Regions from separate parts of the Homo sapiens genome. Here regions 1 and 3 are each linked to region 2. Evidence: fine-mapped expression QTL. A gene starts in region 2. Each other region holds a variant in brackets. All regions are shown on one strand. Distances are between the middles of the regions. Region 1 has its middle 3.2 kb from the start of MIR219A2HG. Region 2 holds the start of URM1 (ubiquitin related modifier 1). Region 3 has its middle 13 kb from the start of MIR219A2HG.

Region 1 (5,000 bases), 25 kb before region 2:
TAAAAATACAAAAATTAGCTGGGCATGGTGGCACACACCTATAGTCCCAGCTACTTGAGAGGCTGAGGCATGAGAATTGCTTGAATCTGGGAGGCAGGGGTTGCAGTGAATGGAGATTGTGCCACTGCACTCCAGACTGCGTGACAGAGTGAGACTCCACTTCAAAAAAAAAAAAAAAAAGCCGGGTGCGGTGGCTCACGCCTGTAATCCCAGCACTTTGGGAGGCTGAGGCGGGTGGATCATGAGGTCAAGAGATTGAGACCATCCTGGTCTCAACCCACCTCTACTAAAAATACAAAATTTAGCTGAGTGTGGTGGCACGTGCCTGTAGTCCCAGCTACTTGGGAGGCTGATGCAGGAGAATTGCTTGAACCCGGGAAGTGGAGGTTGCAGTGAGCCGATATCACGCCACTGCACTCCAGCCTGGATGACAGACCGAGACTCCGTCTCAAAAAAAAAAAAAAAAAAAGCCAGTCCTGGTGGGAAGGAAGGGCTTGCTTAACTGGCAGTGTGGACAACTCTGCCGTCTTCTTTTTTAATTTTTTTTTTTTTGAGACGGAGTCTTGCTCTGTTGCCCAGGCTGGAGTGCAGTGGCGTGACCTCGGCTCACTGCAAGCTCCGTCTCCCGGGTTCACGCCATTCTCCTGTCTCACCCTCCCGAGTAGCTGGGACTACAGGCACTCGCCACCACGCCCGGCTAATTTTTTTGTATTTTTAGTAGAGATGAGGTTTCACCGTGTTAGCCAGGATGGTCTCGATCTCCTGACCTTGTGATCCACCCATCTCGGCCTCCCAAAGTGCTGGGATTACAGGCGTGAGCCACAGCGCCTGGTCTTCTTTTTTAATTTTTTTGTTGAGACAAGGTCTCACTCTGTCACCCAGGCCAGAGTGCACTGGTGGGATCTCAGCTCACTGCAACCTCCGCCTCCTGGGTTCAAACAATTCTGCCTCAGCCTCCTGAGTAGCTGGAATTACAGGCACCTGCCACCACGCTCGACTAATTATAGTATTTTTAGTAGAAACGGGGTTTCACCATGTTGGCCAGGCTGGTCTCAAACTCCTGACCTCAGGTGATCCGCCCGTCTCAGCCTCCCAAACTGCTGGGATTACAGGTGTGAGCCACTGCATCCTGCTGACTCTGCCATCTTCCTGAGAGTTGGTTGTGTGTGTGTGCTGTGTGTGTGTGCGCATGCACACCCGGGGTGTATGGTGGTGATGGTGGAAGCTCATGATGACACATTACTTAACTGCAAGCACATGCAGAGGGTGTTTGGATCCTCCTAACACCCACCCATTTCTAGAGAGGCAGGACAGGCACGATGGATAGGCACAGAGGCTGTCACTAAGATTCAGCCTCCTGGAATCACTTGTCCTGGAAGCCCAAGGCAATGCTGGCTCTTCCTGAAGTCTTCCCACAGCTTCCCTGTTGGAATGAATCTCTGTCTTCTATAATCCCCAGAACCTTGCTAATTCTTCAGCTACCGTGCTTTCCCGGGGCTCTGCTTTCATTAGAGTTGGCTGGGTATTTGTGTCTGTTGGTCCACTTGGATACCGGGTACTTCCGGGGGGCAATGACACTATTTGCCTTTCTCCCTTCCCCTACCTTCAGCGCACACACAGTGCTTTGCAAACATCGGTCCACTAAGCGTTGCTCATGGAGAATCACTCAGATAGACCGTCAAGAACACGGCTCCAGAGCCTGCTCTGCCACCGCTGGCCCTCACCTGGCTCAGTAGCCTAACTGGTCTCTGGTCATCAAACTTGCCCTATCCCCCCATCCCCCCTCCCCCTATTCTCCACACTTCAGTCCCAGCAAACCTTTAAAAATGTAAATCTGAACTTGTCAGACCTTTCAGGATCCCCACCGCGTTTAGGATATAATCGCAAATCCTCCCAATAGCCTAAGAGCCTGGCAAGGTCGACCTCAGCTTTATGTGGAACTTCCCCTTCCTCACTGCGCTCCAGCCACACCAAATTTCCTTCCTTCTCTGAGCTCGCCAAGTACTTCTTTAGAGCACGCTGTTCCCTCCGCCTGGGACAGTGCCCGCCTTCACCTAACTCCCCACTCCTCCTCCCCCAGGATCTGCCTCTGTCCCACACTGTGCGTCTCCTCTGGGGACATCTGTCCTCTGCCGAGTCCTGGGCGAGCACACAGTAGGCATTCCATCAATATCTGTTCAGTGGCTGCAGTTAGCAGCCTTCTTGGCTCCTCATTTCCCTGAGGGTGCGGGTGAGGGCAACTCACTTCTCTGCCCAGTACTGATGGGCTTTAAATACCTCAGTTGGGCATGGTGGAACATTCCTGTCAAATTTCAGCTACTCGGGAGGCTGAGGTGAAAGGATCCCTTGAGCCCAGGATTTCGAGAACCAGCCTGGGCAACATAGGGAGATACCCGTTTCAAAAAAAAAAAAAAATTGGCTGTCTGGCCGGGTGCGGTGGCTCACACCTGTAATCCCAGCACTTTGGGAGGCCGAGACGGGCGGATCATGAGGTCAGGAGATCGAAACCATCCTGGCTAACACGGTGAAACCCCGCCTCTACTAAAAATACAAAAAATTAGCCAGGCGTGGTGGTGGGCGCTTGTAGTCCCAGCTACTCGGGAGGCCGAGGCAGGAGAATGGCATGAACCTGGGAGGGGGAGCTTGCAATGAGCCGAG[A/G]TCGCGCCACTGCACTCCAGCCTGGGGGACAGAGCGAGATTCCATCTCAAAGAAAAAAAAGAAATTGGCTCTAATGTACCCTGGGGACAGAAAAGCCCTTCTCCTAGAAGGCAGCTAGGACCTAGCTTGGGAGCCCCCAACTCTCTTTTTTTTTTTTTTTGAGACGGAGTCTCGCTCCGTCGCCCAGGCTGGAGTGCAGTGGCACGATCTCGGCTCACTGCAAGCTTCGCCTCCCGGGTTCATGCCATTCTCCTGCCTCGGCCTCCCGAGGAGTAGCTGGGACTACAGGCGCCCACCACCACGCCCGGCTAATTTTTTGTATTTTTAGTAGAGACGGGGTTTCACTGTGTTAGTCAGGATGGTCTCGATCTCCTGACCTCGTGATCCGCCCACCTTGGCCTCCCAAAGTGCTGGGATTACAGGTGTGAACCACTGCACCCGGCCAGCCCCCAACTCTTTTTTAAATTTTTATTTAAAAATCTTTATTTTGGCCAGGTGTGGTGGCTCAGGCCTGTAATCCTGGCACTTTGGGAAGCTGAGGAGGGCGGATCATTTGAGGTCGGGAGTTTGAGACCAGCCTGACCAACATGGTGAAAACCTATCTGTACTAAAATACAAAAATTAGCCAGGCATGGTGGCGGGCACCTGTAATCTCAGCTACTCTGGAGGCTGAGGCAGGAGAATTGCTTGAACGCAGTTGGTGGAGATTGCAGTGAGCCGAGATTGTGCCACTGCACTCCAGCCTGGGCGACAGAGCGAGACTCCCTCTTAAAATAAATAAATAAATAGTTTATTTTTATTTTTGTAGAGATGGGGGTCTCACTTTTTTACCCAGGCTGGTTTTTTTTTTTTTTTTTTTTTTTTTTTTTTGAGACCAAGTCTCTCTGTTGCCCAGGCTGGAGTGCAGTGGCACGATCTAGGCTCACTGCAACCTCCACCTGCCAGGTTAAGTGATTCTCATATCTCAGCCTTCTGTGTAGCTGGGATTACAGGCGCTTGCCGCCACACACGGCTTATCTTTGTGTTTTTAGTAGAGATGGGGTTTTGCCATGTGCCCAGGCTGGTCTTGAACTCCTGGGCTCAAGTGATCCGCCCGCCTCGGCCTCCCAAAGTGCTGAGATTACAGGCATGAGTCACCTCACCTGTCACAGGCTGGTATTTAACTTCAGGCTTCAAGCAATCTTCCTGCCTTGGCCTCCAGCCTCGGCCTCCCAAAGTGTTGGGATTATGGACACCAGCCATGGCACCTGGTAATCAGAGACTATTGTTGCCCAGTCCATCTTGGTTGTGTTCATGCCAGGCTGGGGTGGGCTGGGACTGGATTATAATGTATTAATATAAGGTGACACAGAGTGTCTCCTGGGTCTAGCCGTTTTAAGTGCATTTACATCCATCCCCTCTGTACCCACTAAATAAAGGCTTGGAAACTAGAGTGTGCAGCAAGTCCTAAAGCTCTGGGTTTCTAGATCCCTAGTGGGTGCGGTCTCTGGAGGTTGGGGATTGGGGCTGCATGCCTTCTGTCTTATCCTCCAGCATGGTCTTCTCAGGGAGTGACCCTGTGACCTCCAGAATGCTCCCCCTCCCTCTCCAGCTGGAAGCTCCAGGGAGGAGCCTAAGGAAGGAGGGCTCTGCAGTTTCTTCATCTGTAAAATGGGGCTGATAACAGCACTTACTTTCCAGGGTTGTTGTGAGGAATCAGTGAGCTACTACCTTCAAAGAGCTTAGTGCTTGGCACACAATACACTCTTTGCTGTTATTATTACCAAATGGAGCATTCCCAGGAGTTGGGATCTGGTTAGCAGGACTCCCTCCCTGTAAAACCCGGGCTGCAAGAATTACCTCCCACAAGCAACATTCTTTCAACTTTTATAAGAAACTCCAAGAAGTCTATGTGGCTCATTTTAAAGTCACCGGGCATGCGTGCAACCACCCACAGATATTTAATGATTGGTTGGGGGGAGGGCACTGTACTAGGCCCTGGAGGCACAAAGATCCGTAGGACCCGTTTCCTGTCCTAGGGAGGAGACTCAGACAAACCGATATTCACAATTCAGCCGGGCACGTGGCAAGGCCACCCAGAGATTGTGAGGACAGGAGAGCATTTCAGAGCAAGGCAGCTTGGTGTGCCAGGACAGAGGCAGGGGTATTCTGGGTGCTTGGAGAACTCTGGGGTGAATGGAAGGCAGGCTGTATGGGAAAAATGGCCACACACTCCCACTTTAGGGTGTGAGGTTCATTGGGAAAGACAGGCTGGGCTTTGGGGGTGAGAAGCTGGCTATGTATTTACCCAATAGACTGAGAACCGTCTCTGCCAGACCAGGCTGGGGGTGGGGCTGGGGGCG
Region 2 (5,976 bases):
GCTGTTTTTCCCTTTACAAGCGGATGAAGGGAGAACCAGTCTCGCTCAGAGAGTGACCTGTCACTGCTGAATTCACTGGCCCTCAAGGGAGGGGTTGGCATTTCTGCTGTCAGCACATCTGGAGTGGGGGAAGGTGCATGCCCAGCCTCAAGAGTGATTCAGGGAGGCAGACAAGGGGCCTGTTCTAGCCCAGGAGAGACCAAGGCCAGACTCTCTTATGTCTTATAAGATCTGCTATTCAAACTCAACTGACATATCTCCATCTTCCTTCAACCCCCCCAATTCTTGGTGGATGTGTTTGTAGATACCAGTGACAGGTATAGATATTCTCAAAACCACCTTCACCTTTTCTGATGTATCTTCATCTTTTAATCTTCTGTATATACACATACATATACACGTATATATATATTTTGTTTATTTACTTCCTCTCCACCTGCTGGGCTGCAAGCTCTGCCTAAAACAGGGCCTGGCACATGGTAGACACTCAACAAATATCTGCTAAAGGAAAGGAAATGCCCATTTCTCCCAGTTCTTCTCTGACCTCAATGACATTCCCTCCTTTTGCCAATACCTCCCCAACTTGGGAAGGAGGAAGAGGGGTGGGACGGAGAGAACTCCATATCTGGGCCTTTACAACATGGACCACAGGGACACAAAACACAACTATATTACATACTTTGAATCCTGCGTGACCTGAGAAAACGCTCTGCTGAGAACAATTCAGGGGGAAGACAAAGGGTGGCAGACGTGGTCACTGACAAGAAGGAAGGTGTTAGAGGCCTTCCAGAGGGTCTCTGGAGGAGCTGGTGGGGCCAAGAGGACTACATCTGCTCAGGAGGGAGACCCTTCCAGAACTGGAGTGGGAGTGGGGCCACTAAGGGACAAAAGAGAGAAAATGAAGGGCGTGTTAGCCTTTGCAAATTTGCTCCAGTTCTGGATAAGGGTGAATCATGTCTGCTAAGATACATAGGAAATGAAAGAAAGGTCAGGGCAAAAACGTGCATCAACACAAGGACAAAGAGAGAAGGAACCTGGGTTGAGCATCATGTTGGGCATTCCTGAGAATGCTGCAATTTTCATGGAACGCTGTGCTGTGACAGGAGGTGATAGAAGGTGGGTGGGTGGGTGGGTGGGTGGAGGAATGTTGTCCTGCCTTGCCAGGGGTCATTATTGCTCTTGGAGGTAAGGGAGACTGAAGTTAGAGATGATTGGGTCAGAAAAAGGGCAATTGTGCTGGTTTGTAAGCTCTGGAGAGCAATGGCCCCATCTTCCTCACATGACTTCCCCACTGAGCTAGCACAGTACCTAGCAGAGACATTGTTGATAAACAAAGACCATGTCTGACTCATGAGGATGAAAGGCAAGTTGTCTGCAGATAAATCTTCTTTTTTTTTTTTTTGGTAGAGATGAAGTCTCCCCATGTTGCCAAGGCTGGTCTCGAATTCTTGGGCTCAAGCAGTCCTCCTGCCCAAGCCTCCCAAAGTACTAGGATTACAGGCATGAGCCTCCATGCCTGGCCCAGATAAATCTTAACACAGCAGTCTGTGGCTTCTCTCTTTCCAGCTCTGCTGAGGCCTGTCAAGGAAGCAGGGATCCTCCTAGAATCCCAGGCTTTGGGGAGTGTAGCTGGGCCAAGGGTCAGTGAGGCAAAACAGTGAGGAGTCCAGACCAATACAGTTCTAATTGGATCCAAGCAGCCAGACAATATCAATTAAAATGCACTTAGTCATGAGACTTACCCCCCTTCTAAGGGGCAGAAATGCTGAACGCTGTAGGGCACGGACAGACTTCTATTTATCTTTGTATCCTCAGTGTCTGGCTTGCTGCCCGGCACATGGTAGGCACTCAATAAATGGCTGGTGAATGAACTACCCAATTAAGGGAAAACATGAAAGAAATGGGAGGCATCCAATGAGAAGAAAGGCACTGGGCAGAGGTTTTAGATTCCCATCCCAGACTTTTCCTGTCACATAGACCTTGGCTTATCTACACACACACAGGCACACACACACACCTACCTATTCCACACACACACACACACATCCCTACCTATTTCCTCTTTTCCACGTGATACTGTAAAGTACACCACCCATCTTTCAAGGCCTGTTTCTTTGCCTTCTCTCTAAGCTCTGCAGTTTCCCTCAGCTTTGAAACCATATGACAAACCTGTTTGTAGGAAGCACAAATAGTGCCTTGGGTAGACTTCCTCCCTGCTCTGTGTTTCTTCAGTAACTGGTGTGTGTCCCAATCTCTGCATTTTTCATCTTGTGTATACTATACTGTCCCTGTTAGTTCCCTTCAGTGTGATTTCTTATTTGTCCCCGTGTCTCCACCTGACTCCAGTTCTGCAGAAGGCAATCAGCAAGTTTACTGACTGTCCTGAAGGAGGCTCAGGTCTGTTTACCATCCCCAAGTCTTAGGAAAGAAAAAGAAAAAAGTCCCGCCCTGGCCACTACATCCCACGAGAAACAAGACCTTAATAACAGTGTAAAAAGAAACTGCTGCCCAAAGAATGAAATCAGCGGGTGGAGGGTGGTCCTTCTAGGTTCTAGGAGCTCAGATGCCAAACAGATGGGATTGGTCCGAGATAGGAATGGAAAAGAAGAGAGAGAGGCTGCCTGCTAACAGTCACGACCTCCGACTCCGGCGGAGCACAGGGCACCGAGTGGTACACAGAGAGCATTTCCCTCCCAATGTGCGCCTCTATTTCCGGACAGACGGCCTCACTGCCAAGAGAGACTGGCCTCTCAGACTCTCCTAGGCGGGTAGCGTAGCTCACAGCGGGCACTGGGACACCCAGTGATTCGGCCGTGTCAGGCCCCACGGCAGAAGGAAAGGAATTCTGGGCCCGACGACTTCAATCCATCCCCACGGCGCCCCAGCTCTGTGACTCACCCGAACTCCACCTCCACTGACAAGGGCGCAGCCATGTTGAGGAAGCCGAGCTCGCAGGAAACTCCCCTCAACTTCCGGCGCGCCCGCAAATTTCCGGGCGTCTCCGGGTGCCGCGGACGGAAGAGGCGGTGCCCAGGGATCCAGCTTCGTCAGCTGTTGGAGGAAGTCATCGAGGGGAGGGGAGGGGAGGGGAGGGCAGCGGAGGGAAAGGGGTGGCAGAGGGACTATCACCGGCGCTGTTGGGGCTGTGAATCGGTCTCCTTCCGTCTTTCACCGACTGGGCTCAGAGACCCAGGGTGGGAAGCGCCTTGTACGGGACCACAAGCAGGCGGAGGAGAGCCCCCAGGTTTTTTGCGACGTGACCGTGAGCCACGTAGCTGCTTATCTTGCATGAGTTAGAATCTCTTCAGTCTACACACCGCTTGGGCCAGCCCATCTACTCGTCTGGTTGGAATTATAAATGACTCCCAGATCTTTATTTCCGACCCAGAATCTCTCCTGAGCGGGCGACTCGCTATCCAGCCGCCCCCTTTGCTGTCGATTTGGAAGTCACTCGTTCAACAGCTGTTCATTGCGCCTCCCTGTGCCAGGCATTTTGATCGGTGCTAGTGGTAAAGGGGATGGGCAAGGTTCCTGCCTTTAGGGCACTCACAGTCTAGCGGGGAGACTAACTGTAATCAAATAAGCATACTAAGACATGTACAACCTCAAACTTAAATAAAGGAACTGAAGTTATAGGAACTTCAAAAAGAAAACTGAGTAGACTGGACTTGCTGGGCTCTAAAACCTGAGTAAACTAGGTGGCTGTGAGGGGAGAGAAACCTCTAGGAGCATTCCAGTGAGGAGGACAAAAGGCCCAGAGGCTCTGGGTGAGAACATGCTGGAACATGGAGAGGAAGGTGGAAGTTAGGGAGCCTGACTTTCATCCATCTAGAGAGGGAGCTGCAAAGGTGCTCAGGGGCCAACCCCTGCCTTGTAAGCAGGTAAACATTTCAGTCTCTAGGAGCAGTGGGAGACTACTGAAGGGTTTTGGGAGACAGTGACATTTTAGAATTGTGTTTTAAAATATAATTTCTGGCTGCAATATGGAGAATGATTTGAGGGGAATAAGGAAAGAGACACGGAGACCACTGGAGCCTGTTGCAAAAGCTCAGGGCAGGCCGGGCGCGGCGGCTCAGGGCAGGCCGGGCGCGGCGGCTCACGCCTGTCATCCCAGCAATTTGGGAGGCCGAGGCAGGCGGATCACGAGGTCAAGAGATCAAGACCATCCTGGCCAACATGGCAAAACCCTGTCTTTACTAAAAAAATACAAAAATTAGCTGGATGTGGTGGCGTGCGCCTGTAGTCCCAGCTACTCGGGAGGCTGAGGCAGAAGAATCGCTGGAACCCGGGAGGTGGAGGTTGCAGTGAGCTGACATCGAGCCACTGCACTCCAGCCTGGTGACAGAGCAAGACTCTGTCTCAAAAAAAAAAAAAAGCCCAGGGCAGAAATGGAATGAAGTTGGCCAGGCACAGTGGCTTATGCCTGTAATCCTAGCACTTCGAGAGGCCACGATGGGCGGATCACGAGGTCAGGAGTTCAAGACCAGTCTAGCCAACATGGTGAAACCCTGTCTCTACTAAAAATACAAAAATTAGCCAGGCATGGTGGCAGTCTCCTGTAATCCCAACTACTCTGGAGGCAGAGGCAGGAGAATCCCTTGAACCCAGGAAGCAGCAGAGGTTGCAGTGAGCCGAGATCGTGCCACTGGACTCCAGCCTGGGCGACAGAGTGAGACGCTAAAAAAAAGAAATGGAATGAAGTAGACGGCCTATGGGTATCTAAACACCAACACTTCCAAAACTGAACTCAGCATTGGTAGAGGATGATGGTGTAGCCTAGTGGTTAAGGGCAGAATGATGTAATAGTTAAGATCTAGGAGTTCAGGTGGAATGGGTGTGGCGACTCACACCTGTAATCCCAATGCTTTGGGAGGCCAAGGCAAGAGGACTGCTTCTGGCTGGGAGTTTGAGACCAGCCTGGGCAACACAGCAAGTCCCTATGTCTGTAAATGTTTCTTCAAAAATCAGCCAGGCATGGTGGAGTGTGCCTGTCCCAGCTACTCAGGAGGCTGTGAGGGGAGGATCACCTGAGCCTGGAGGTCAAGGCTGCAGTGAGCCGTGATCATGCTATTGCATTCAGCCTGCATGACAGAGTGAGACTCCGGAGTGCAATGGCATGATCACAGCTCACTGTAATCTTGAGCTGCTGGACTCAAGGGAACCTCCTGCCTCAGCCTCTAGAGTAGCTGAGACCACAGGCACTGATAAAGTCCTTCCTTCCTTCTAGTCCACCATGCCCGGCTAATTTTTAAAATTTTTTTGTAGAGACATGTTTTCACCATGTTGCCCAGGCTACTCTCAAACTCCTGGGCTCAAGCAGTCTGCCTGTCTTGGCCTCCCAAAGTGCTGGGATTACAGGTGTGAGGCACCACACTGGGCCAAAAAAAAATTGTTTTGTTTTTGAGACAGATTCTTGCTCTGTCACCCAGGCTGGAGTGCAGTGGCATGACCTCGGCTCACTGCAATCTCTGCCTGCCAGGTTCAAGAGAGTCTTCTGCCTCAGCTTCCCGAGTATCTGGGACTACAGGCTTGCGCCATCATCCTGGCTAATTTTTGTACTTTTAGTAGAGATGGGGTTTCACCATATTGGCCAGGCTGGTCTCGAACTCCTGACCTGGTGATCTGCCCGCCTTGGCCTCCCAAAGTGCTGAGATTACAGGTGTGAGCCACTGCACCTGGCTTGGCCAAAGAATTTTTAATTTAAAAAAAATTTTTTTTGTAAAGATCTAGGAGTACAACTACCAGCTTTATATGCAGGCCCTGGCCAGGCACAGTGGCTCACGCCTGTAATCCCAGCATTTTGGGAGGCCAAGGTGGATGGATTGCTTGAGGCCAGGAGTTCAGAACCAGCCTGGGCAACATGATGAAACCCCATCTCTACCAAAAGCCAGGCATGGTGGCACACACCTGTAGTCCCAGCTACTCAGGAGGCTGAGGCACAAGCTGGGAGGCGGAGGTTACACTACTGCACTCCAG
Region 3 (7,547 bases), 35 kb before region 2:
GGACACTCTATGCATGGAGTAAACACCACCAGTTCTGAGTCTGGAGCTGTGTCAGGTTCTGTGCTCGATTCTTTCCAAGTATTTATTAGCGAATTACTCCTCCTGGTGGCTACGGTCGGCCTGGGCTAGAATCCCAGCTCTGCTGCCTCCAGACTGCCTGGCTTTGGGCAAGTGACTGGACCTCTCAAGAGTCTAGCAGTCTCCAAAGCTGCAAAATGGAGACAGGAAAAACGCCTCTGCATCTTTGATTTTGTTATGGAAAGGATGAGATGACGCAGATGAAGTGATTAGCCCAGGACCTGACCCAGAGGTAGTGGGTGGGAAATGCTGCCTGTTACTCTTCTATTTAACCACAATGGTCAAGGGCAGGATCCAAGTGGCCCATGCACCACCGCGTGCCCCCATGCTCAGCTCAGAGCTGGTACGTAGGAGGGCTCCATCATTACCTGTGAATGAACCTGGTCCGTGGTCCCCACATGGGGAAAGCAGGCTGGGAGAGGGCCACACCTGTCCAAGATCACACAGTTACCGGGTGGAGCTGGATTCAGCCCCGTCCGTGAGTCTGCCAAGGTCCCCTGCTCTGACTCCTGTACCCCTAGGGCCTTCTCTCTCGAGGCCAGAACCTGGAGTAGGGAGGGGACAGGGGAACAGGGACAATCTCAGGGCTAAGACAACCCAGAAGGTGACTTGGCTGTGGCTGGGTGGGATCTCAGGGTCTGGGAACGACCCCTCAGGATGCAGTGACCCGTGCTCTCCCTTTTTGTCCTCTCCCCCCTGCCCACCATGGGTCAGTTCCCTGGTCCCAGCCTAGACATCTGGAACTGGGGCAGACAAAGGGCTGCGGGAAGGGACAATAACCTTCTGTCCATTTTCAGATGTCGGGCCGCGCCTGGCCAGGGCTGGGGGCCGGAGCCCCGGCGAGGCGGTGCCAGGCCCCCCGCGGGCAGCGGACAATGTTGGCAGTGATGGAGAGGAGGCATTTCAAAGCGTTTTGTTCCCGCTGACCCCCTCCCCCCAACATCTCGCCCCAGCTCGGGGCGAGGCCCCATCCCCACCCCCAGCCACCCAGGCCTCTGCTCTGGGCGGCTTGGGGACCAGCCACATTCTTGACCTCAGGGGAAAAGTTTAGACTCTTTGCGCCCTGGGCAACAATAACAGTGTCACAGAACTGATTTAGGAGCAGCACTTACCATCACAAAGCAGCAGACAAAGAGCCGGGCTGAGAACGCGCCGGGCCGCTGCGACTACTCCACCAACCGCGGCTCACTTCTCTCCAGGCTCTGCCAGGCAGGACTGGGTGCCAGGCCCCACACCCTAGGCACACCAGGGGAGGACTTGAGGTGGGCAGTCATCAAGAAGAGACAGGGGAAACCAACCGGGAATGTGGAGGACTGAGAGCTAGTTCCTGCTCCACCACCAATTTGCTACGTGACCCTGAGCAAGTCCTTCCCCACTGTGGGCCTCAGTTTCCCTATCTGTAGTAAGAAGGCTAAACTATAAGGCCAAAAGCACGAGGCTCTGATCTTGCAGGTAGAAGAGTTTCAATGAGGATGATGACAGTGGTGATGGTGGTGCTGCCAAGCCCCCCTCCTCCAACTCCTTTACCCCTAGGGCCTTCTTTCTTGAGGCCAGAACCCGGACTAGGGAGGGGACAGGGGAACAGGGACAATCCCATGGCTAAGTAAGACAACCCAGAAGGTGACTTGGCTGTGGCTGGGTGGGATCTCAGGGTCTGGGAACGACCCCTCAGGATGCAGTGAGAAGTATTTGCCACTTGGTCCTGTGCACTTCAGAGGTGCCAGGCACTGTGCTCACTAAGCCCTTTCAGACCTTCATACCCTTTTATCATGTAAACTTTTTCAGACTCACAAAGCAGATGTATAATTAGCTCCACTTTACACTTGATAAGCTAAGGCTCAGAGAAGTTCAGTCATTTGTCCAACGCCACACAGCCTGGAGGTTGTGGAGCCAATACTCAAGGCGGAGCCGCTTCCTTCCTGAAATTATACTCCAGTGGGAAGGAGAGAGGAACAACGAGGCAGCTGGACATGGTGAGTTCTGGCTGGGAGGGTCTTCCCTCCCTGCCAGAAGGCTATGAATAAAGAAATGTCTGCTTATCCCCAGGGGAAATTCCATCCTTGGAGCAGGTGCCTTTATTTATTTATTTATTTATTTATTTATTTATTTATTTTTTGAGACAGAATCTCGCTCTGTCACCCAGGCTGGAGTGCAGTGGCGCGAACTTGGCTCACTGCAACCTCCACCTCCCGGGTTCAAGCGATTCTCCTGCCTCAGCCTCCCGAGTAGCTGGGACTACAGGCACCCGCCACTACGCCTGGCTAATTTTTGTATTTTTAGTAGAGATGGAGTTTCACCATATTGGCCAGGCTGGTCTCTCAACTCCTGACCTTGTGATCAGCCCTCCTTGGCCTCCCAAAGTGCTGGGATTACAGGCGTGAACCACTGTGCCCAGCTGCAGTTGCCTTTAAAAACGAGGTTGGACAAGCACTTTGGGAGGCTCCCGCCTGTAATCCCAGCACTTTGGGAGGCTGAGGCAGGTGGATCACTTAAGCCCAGGAGCTCAAGACCAGCCTGGGCAACATGGCAAAACTCCATCTCTACAAAAAATACAAAAATCAGCCAAGCATGGTGGCCATTCACTCCAGCCTGGGCGACAGGGTGAGACTGTGTCTCAAAAAATAAAAATAAAGTTTATTTAAAAAAAAGCTTGATTGATTTTTATCTGTGAACAGAGGTGGGCCTGGGTAGACATCCAGATGCAGGGGATTGAATGCAATGACCTCCAGCGGAGGCCTCCTAGGAATCAGAGGCACTATGGAAGAACGTTTAAGGGATTGGGCTCTGCAGCCAAGCTATGGGCTTGAATCCCAGCTCTTTTTCTCGCAGTGTGTCCACAGATGAGTCACTTCAATGCTCCGTGTCTCAGTTTTCCAATCTGTAAAACTGACTCCACACTGCAGGAATGTGGTGACCACC[A/G]TTCAGCAAGGTACGTGGACGACCTCAGAACAGAGCCTGACCCAGTGAGGAATGCCTGTTTCTACTCGGCAGGGTCCCCCCAGCCAGGTCCCACCTCAAAGCAGGAACCACTGGGGTGCTGTGGTATGCAGTCAGCTGTTGACCTTGCTTTTTGGGAAGTGGTTGGGCTTTAAAGACAACATGAGGGACTATGGTTAGACACCAAGAACAAAGACGCCATTCTCTGGGGGATGTAAGGCAAAAGCCAACCACGGCTTCCCAGGGATAGTCAGAGGAGATTGTGGCGCTCTGAGGCCCAGGCAGGGGCTGCTCCTGCTACTAGGCTGGGCCCTGGGCATGGTGCCTGGAGAGACAACAGAAAGGAAAGGCCTGGAGGTGCTAGGCAGAGTCGGCTCCCTCCACCCCTCAGCCTCTTAAATTCAGGGGGAAACTGCATGTGGAGAGGGAAAGAGAGAGGTGGTCAAAGATGGCTTCCATAACACAAACAGCCTGCGGTGTGATGAGGGGGCCTGGTGGGTTTGAGTACCAGCAGTTTGCTGTGTCACCCGGGATGAACTGCTAACTCTCTCTGAGCTCATTCCAAAGGTCTTTTAGAATCCAAAGTGTTAAAAGGAAACCATTACAGCAGCCTCTGTGATTTCACAAATCTAATCAGAAAGTTGGCTAGGCTGGGTGCGGTAGCTCAGGCCTGTAATCACAGCATTTAGGGAGGCTGAGGTGGGAGGATTGCTTGAGCCCAGGAGTTCAAGACCAGCCTGGGCAACATAGTGAGACCTTATCTTTTTTTTTTTTTTTTTAATATAAAGATATATTCCATGCAAGAGAGACCTCATCTTTTAAAACAGAAATTTAAAAATCATACAAATAAAAATAAAACACAAAAACCTGGCTGGGAATCCAGGAGTCCTATACCCTAGACTCCAGCCCCTCCTACCTCCTCACATTCCCAGCCCTCTCCTCCAGCTTCTCTAACCATCCCTTCAGCTCCCCTCACCAAACCATCAGTGACACACGAGTCCCAGACAGAGGGTGAGACAGTCACAACAGAAAAGGCCACAGAACCATGAGGACTCACGGAGATTGTGGGGGTCTTGGGGAGCCCCGACATGGACAACCTCTCCCTCCCTCACTGCCTGGCTGTGGGGCCAGAGGAGCACTCACCCGGGCAGAGCCTCTTGGGGGTACTCCTCAGCCCAGGAGGTGGATGGCACTGCTGGGGCGTCTCTGGCATAAGGTGACTCCCACCCAGCTCCTGCTGCTGAGAAGGACTGGTCAGGCGGGGCCCTCAGGTGCCAGACCGCCCTTCCCGGGCACAGATTTTCCTGGCATCTGCTGGGCAGGAAGGGCACTGGCTGGGGGTTGGGCAGAGGAGCAGGGAAAGATTTGAGCAAAGACGTCTCCCAGAGGGCTTCCCCCTAAACCTTCACCCCACTCTCCTTCTGGACACTGTAGGCCAAAGGTCCAGGAAGACAGGGAGCCTCAGGAGTGGGGAGAGGTCTGATCAAGGAGGCTGAGAGGAGCCCAGGCCCCTGCCCCCCGACCGCTCCCATCCACTGCCAGCAGGGCCCACACGGAGGTGTTTGCTTTTCCTGCCTCTACACTGACTCCATTCAGAGCAGCCGATCCCCACCCCCGGCCAACGACCAGAAAGTCAGGGCACCAGGGAGTGAGATCACGGCCCCCACCTCCCCCTCCACAACCCTTCCTGCCCTCTTCACTGCAGGAGATACCTCAGCCACAAGGGCTTCCTAGTTTCATGGACGACTGGGGCGTGGGGGGCTGGCAGGAGGAGAGAAAGAGGGAAACCAAGTCGAGAAGAGGGTGGTGGGAAGTATCTGAGGAGAGGGACGCAAAGGGACACGGACGATAGGGCTCCTGATGGAGGCGGCCCAGGCAGAGATGGGGCAGGGACAGGATGGGGGAGCCACAGAGCAGAGGACTGTCTAGGAGGCAGGCAGGGCCGTCACTAACCAGTCCAGGGCCTCACAGCCTGGCTCTGCACCGGTCACGGCCAGCAGGGCCCGGAGTGGACACTGAGGATGGGAGCTCCTGGCGCCCACCTGGAAACCAGCCTCCTTCTCATCCCCGGAACAAGGGCCCAGGCAGAGCTGTGACCTGGTCTGTGGCCAGGGGAAGGAGGAGGGTGAAAAGTTTCCCCAAGTCAGAAGGCCATGGGGGAGGCATCTCAGGGGGTCCTGCTCTTTGCTGTCTCTGACTGTCACATTGGTACATAAAGGGGGTAGAAAGGTCAGATGCGGCCTTTCAGGCCCGTGGGAAAAACTCAGCCCATTTCCCTAATCCATATTTATTGGTGTGAGACACTGGGGTGGGAGGAAGCCCGCTGCCCCCACCCGCCGCCCCAGCCAGGCCAGGTTAGCACTAAGAACAGGCTCCATGTCACCCAAATCCTACTCTTTGTCTCCAGATTGGCTCCAGAATCCTCCCCCATCCCTCCTCCCCTTGGTCCCCCCCACCCAACCCCCCTCGGGGTTGCCAAGCAACCATGGAAGGGTAGCTGAGATATTTTCTTTATTACAAGCAAAAGCAAGACAGCATCATGGCCCCAGGAGGGGAGCAGGGTGGGGGCTGGGGGAGAGGGTGTCCTGTGCTCTGGGGGGACTCAGCCACCTCCACTTGTTCTGAGCGTGAGCAGTGGGGAGACAGGGCCCCAGAGCCCAAGAGAAGGAGGGAGATGGAAGAGAGTGTTGGTGAAGGGGTGGGTGGAGTGTGCAGACACTGGTCCACTCTACACAATGCTAAAAGATGGGGTGGTGCCATGAGACCCAGGCCTGAGTCTCTCACCTGCCACCCACCAGCTGTGCCATCTGCACCCAAGTCACTTCCCTTCTCTGGGCCTGTTTCCTCCTTGATAAAATGGGAATAATAATATGTATTATCTCATTTAATCCTCACAAAAGACCCAGGAGATGTTTATTTTTCCTATTTTATTGGTTAAGGAAGCTGAGGTTGGGAGGTATGAAGTCATGTGCCAAGCAGGTAAGTGGCAGAGGTGGGATTCCTGAGCCCCATCCCTCTCTTTTTATCTTTTTTTTTTTTTTTTTGAGATGGAGTCTTGCTCTGTCACCCAGGCTGGAGTGCAGTGGCAGAGTGGCGGGATCTTGGCTCATTGCAACCTCCGCCTCCCGGGTTCACGCCATTCTCCTGCCTCAGCCTCCGGAGTAGCTGGGACTACAGGTGCCCACCACCATGCCCAGCTAATTGTTTGTATTTTTAGTAGAGATGGGATTTCACCGTGTTAGCCAGGATGGTGTCGATCTCCTGACCTCATGATCCACCCGCTTCGGCCAGTGCTGGGATTACAGGTGTGAGCCGCTTCGGCCAGTGCTAGGATTACAGGTGTGAGCCACTGTGCCCGGCCTCTTTTTTTTTCATAACAGCATTGTTGAGATGTAATTCACATGCCATGCAATTTGCCTACTTAAAGTGTATCATTCAACAGCTTTTAGTATATTCAAGAATTGTGCAACCATCACAACAAGCCATTTTATATTTTCATTATTTTGAAAAGAAAGCCCATACTCAGGCTGGGCGTGGTGGCTCACACCTGTAATCCCAGCACTTTGGGAGGTCAAGGTGGGCTGATCACCTGAGGTCAAGAGTTCAAGATCAGCCTGGGCAACATGGTGAAACTACATCTCTACTAGAAAAATACAAAAATTAGCAGGGCGTGGTGGTGGGCACTTGTAATCCCAGCTACTCGGGAGGTTGAGGCAAGGAGAATTGCTTGAACCCAGGAGACGGAGGTTGCAGTGAGCTGAGATCGCACCACTGCACTCCAGCCTGCATGACAGAGTGAGACTCCATCTCAAAAAAAGAAAGAAAGAAAGAAAGCCCATACTCATTAGCCATCATTCCCCATTTCTCCCCAACTGCCCTTCTCCCCAGCCCTAGGCAACCACTAATCTGCTTTCTGTCTCAATAGATTTGCCTATTCTGGATATTTCATGTAAATGGAATTATACAGTATGTCTAAGTCCCAATTATTATTATTTTTTAGACATGGTTTCTCTCTGTCACCCAGGCTGGAGTGCAGTGGCACACTCATGGCTCACTGCAGCCTCAACCTCCTAGACTCAAGTGATCCTTCTGCCTCAGCCTCCCAAGCAGCTGGGACTACAGGCACCCATCACCATGCCCAGCTAATTTTTTTTTTTTGCAGAGATGGGTTCCCACTATGTTGTCCAGGATGGTCTTGAACTCTCGTGAGTCCCAACTCCTTAACTTCCAATGGTTCCTACTTCACTGGGTACTGGGGCAATAGAGTAAGAGGAGTGAGGTGGTGAAGTATTGAAGAATGTGGTCTTTGCAGATACGCAGACTTAGGTCTAAAACAAACCTAGGGCCGGGTGTGGTGGCTCATGCCTGTAATCCCAGCACTTTGGGAGGCTGAGGTGGGCAGATCACCTGAGATCAGGAGTTCAAGACCAGTCTGACCAACATGGAGAAACCTCGTCTCTACTAAAAATACAAAATTAGTTGGGCGTGATGGCACATGGCTGTAATCCCAGCTACTTGGGAGGTTGAGGCAG

What was found.
Region 1: its variant is fine-mapped to the expression of URM1 in esophagus mucosa (GTEx, PIP above 0.99). The same link has a PIP of 0.9 or more in sun-exposed skin.
Region 3: its variant is fine-mapped to the expression of URM1 in breast (GTEx, PIP 0.98).

What each region holds. Positions count from the first base shown.
Region 1 is chr9:128,394,223-128,399,222 of GRCh38, reverse strand. No RefSeq gene overlaps it. Among named protein-coding and RNA genes, the nearest start is that of MIR219A2HG, 3.2 kb to the right of the region's middle. The variant A/G (reference allele first, on the strand shown) is at 2,659.
Region 2 is chr9:128,368,338-128,374,313 of GRCh38, reverse strand. It overlaps URM1 (ubiquitin related modifier 1), which reads right to left and starts at 2,940. Exons shown (of 5, transcript NM_030914.4): 1 at 2,899-2,940. The coding sequence starts at 2,933. RefSeq lists enhancers at 2,742-2,841, 2,905-3,768, 3,769-4,633.
Region 3 is chr9:128,402,700-128,410,246 of GRCh38, reverse strand. No RefSeq gene overlaps it. Among named protein-coding and RNA genes, the nearest start is that of MIR219A2HG, 13 kb to the right of the region's middle. RefSeq lists an enhancer at 4,690-5,490. The variant A/G (reference allele first, on the strand shown) is at 2,998.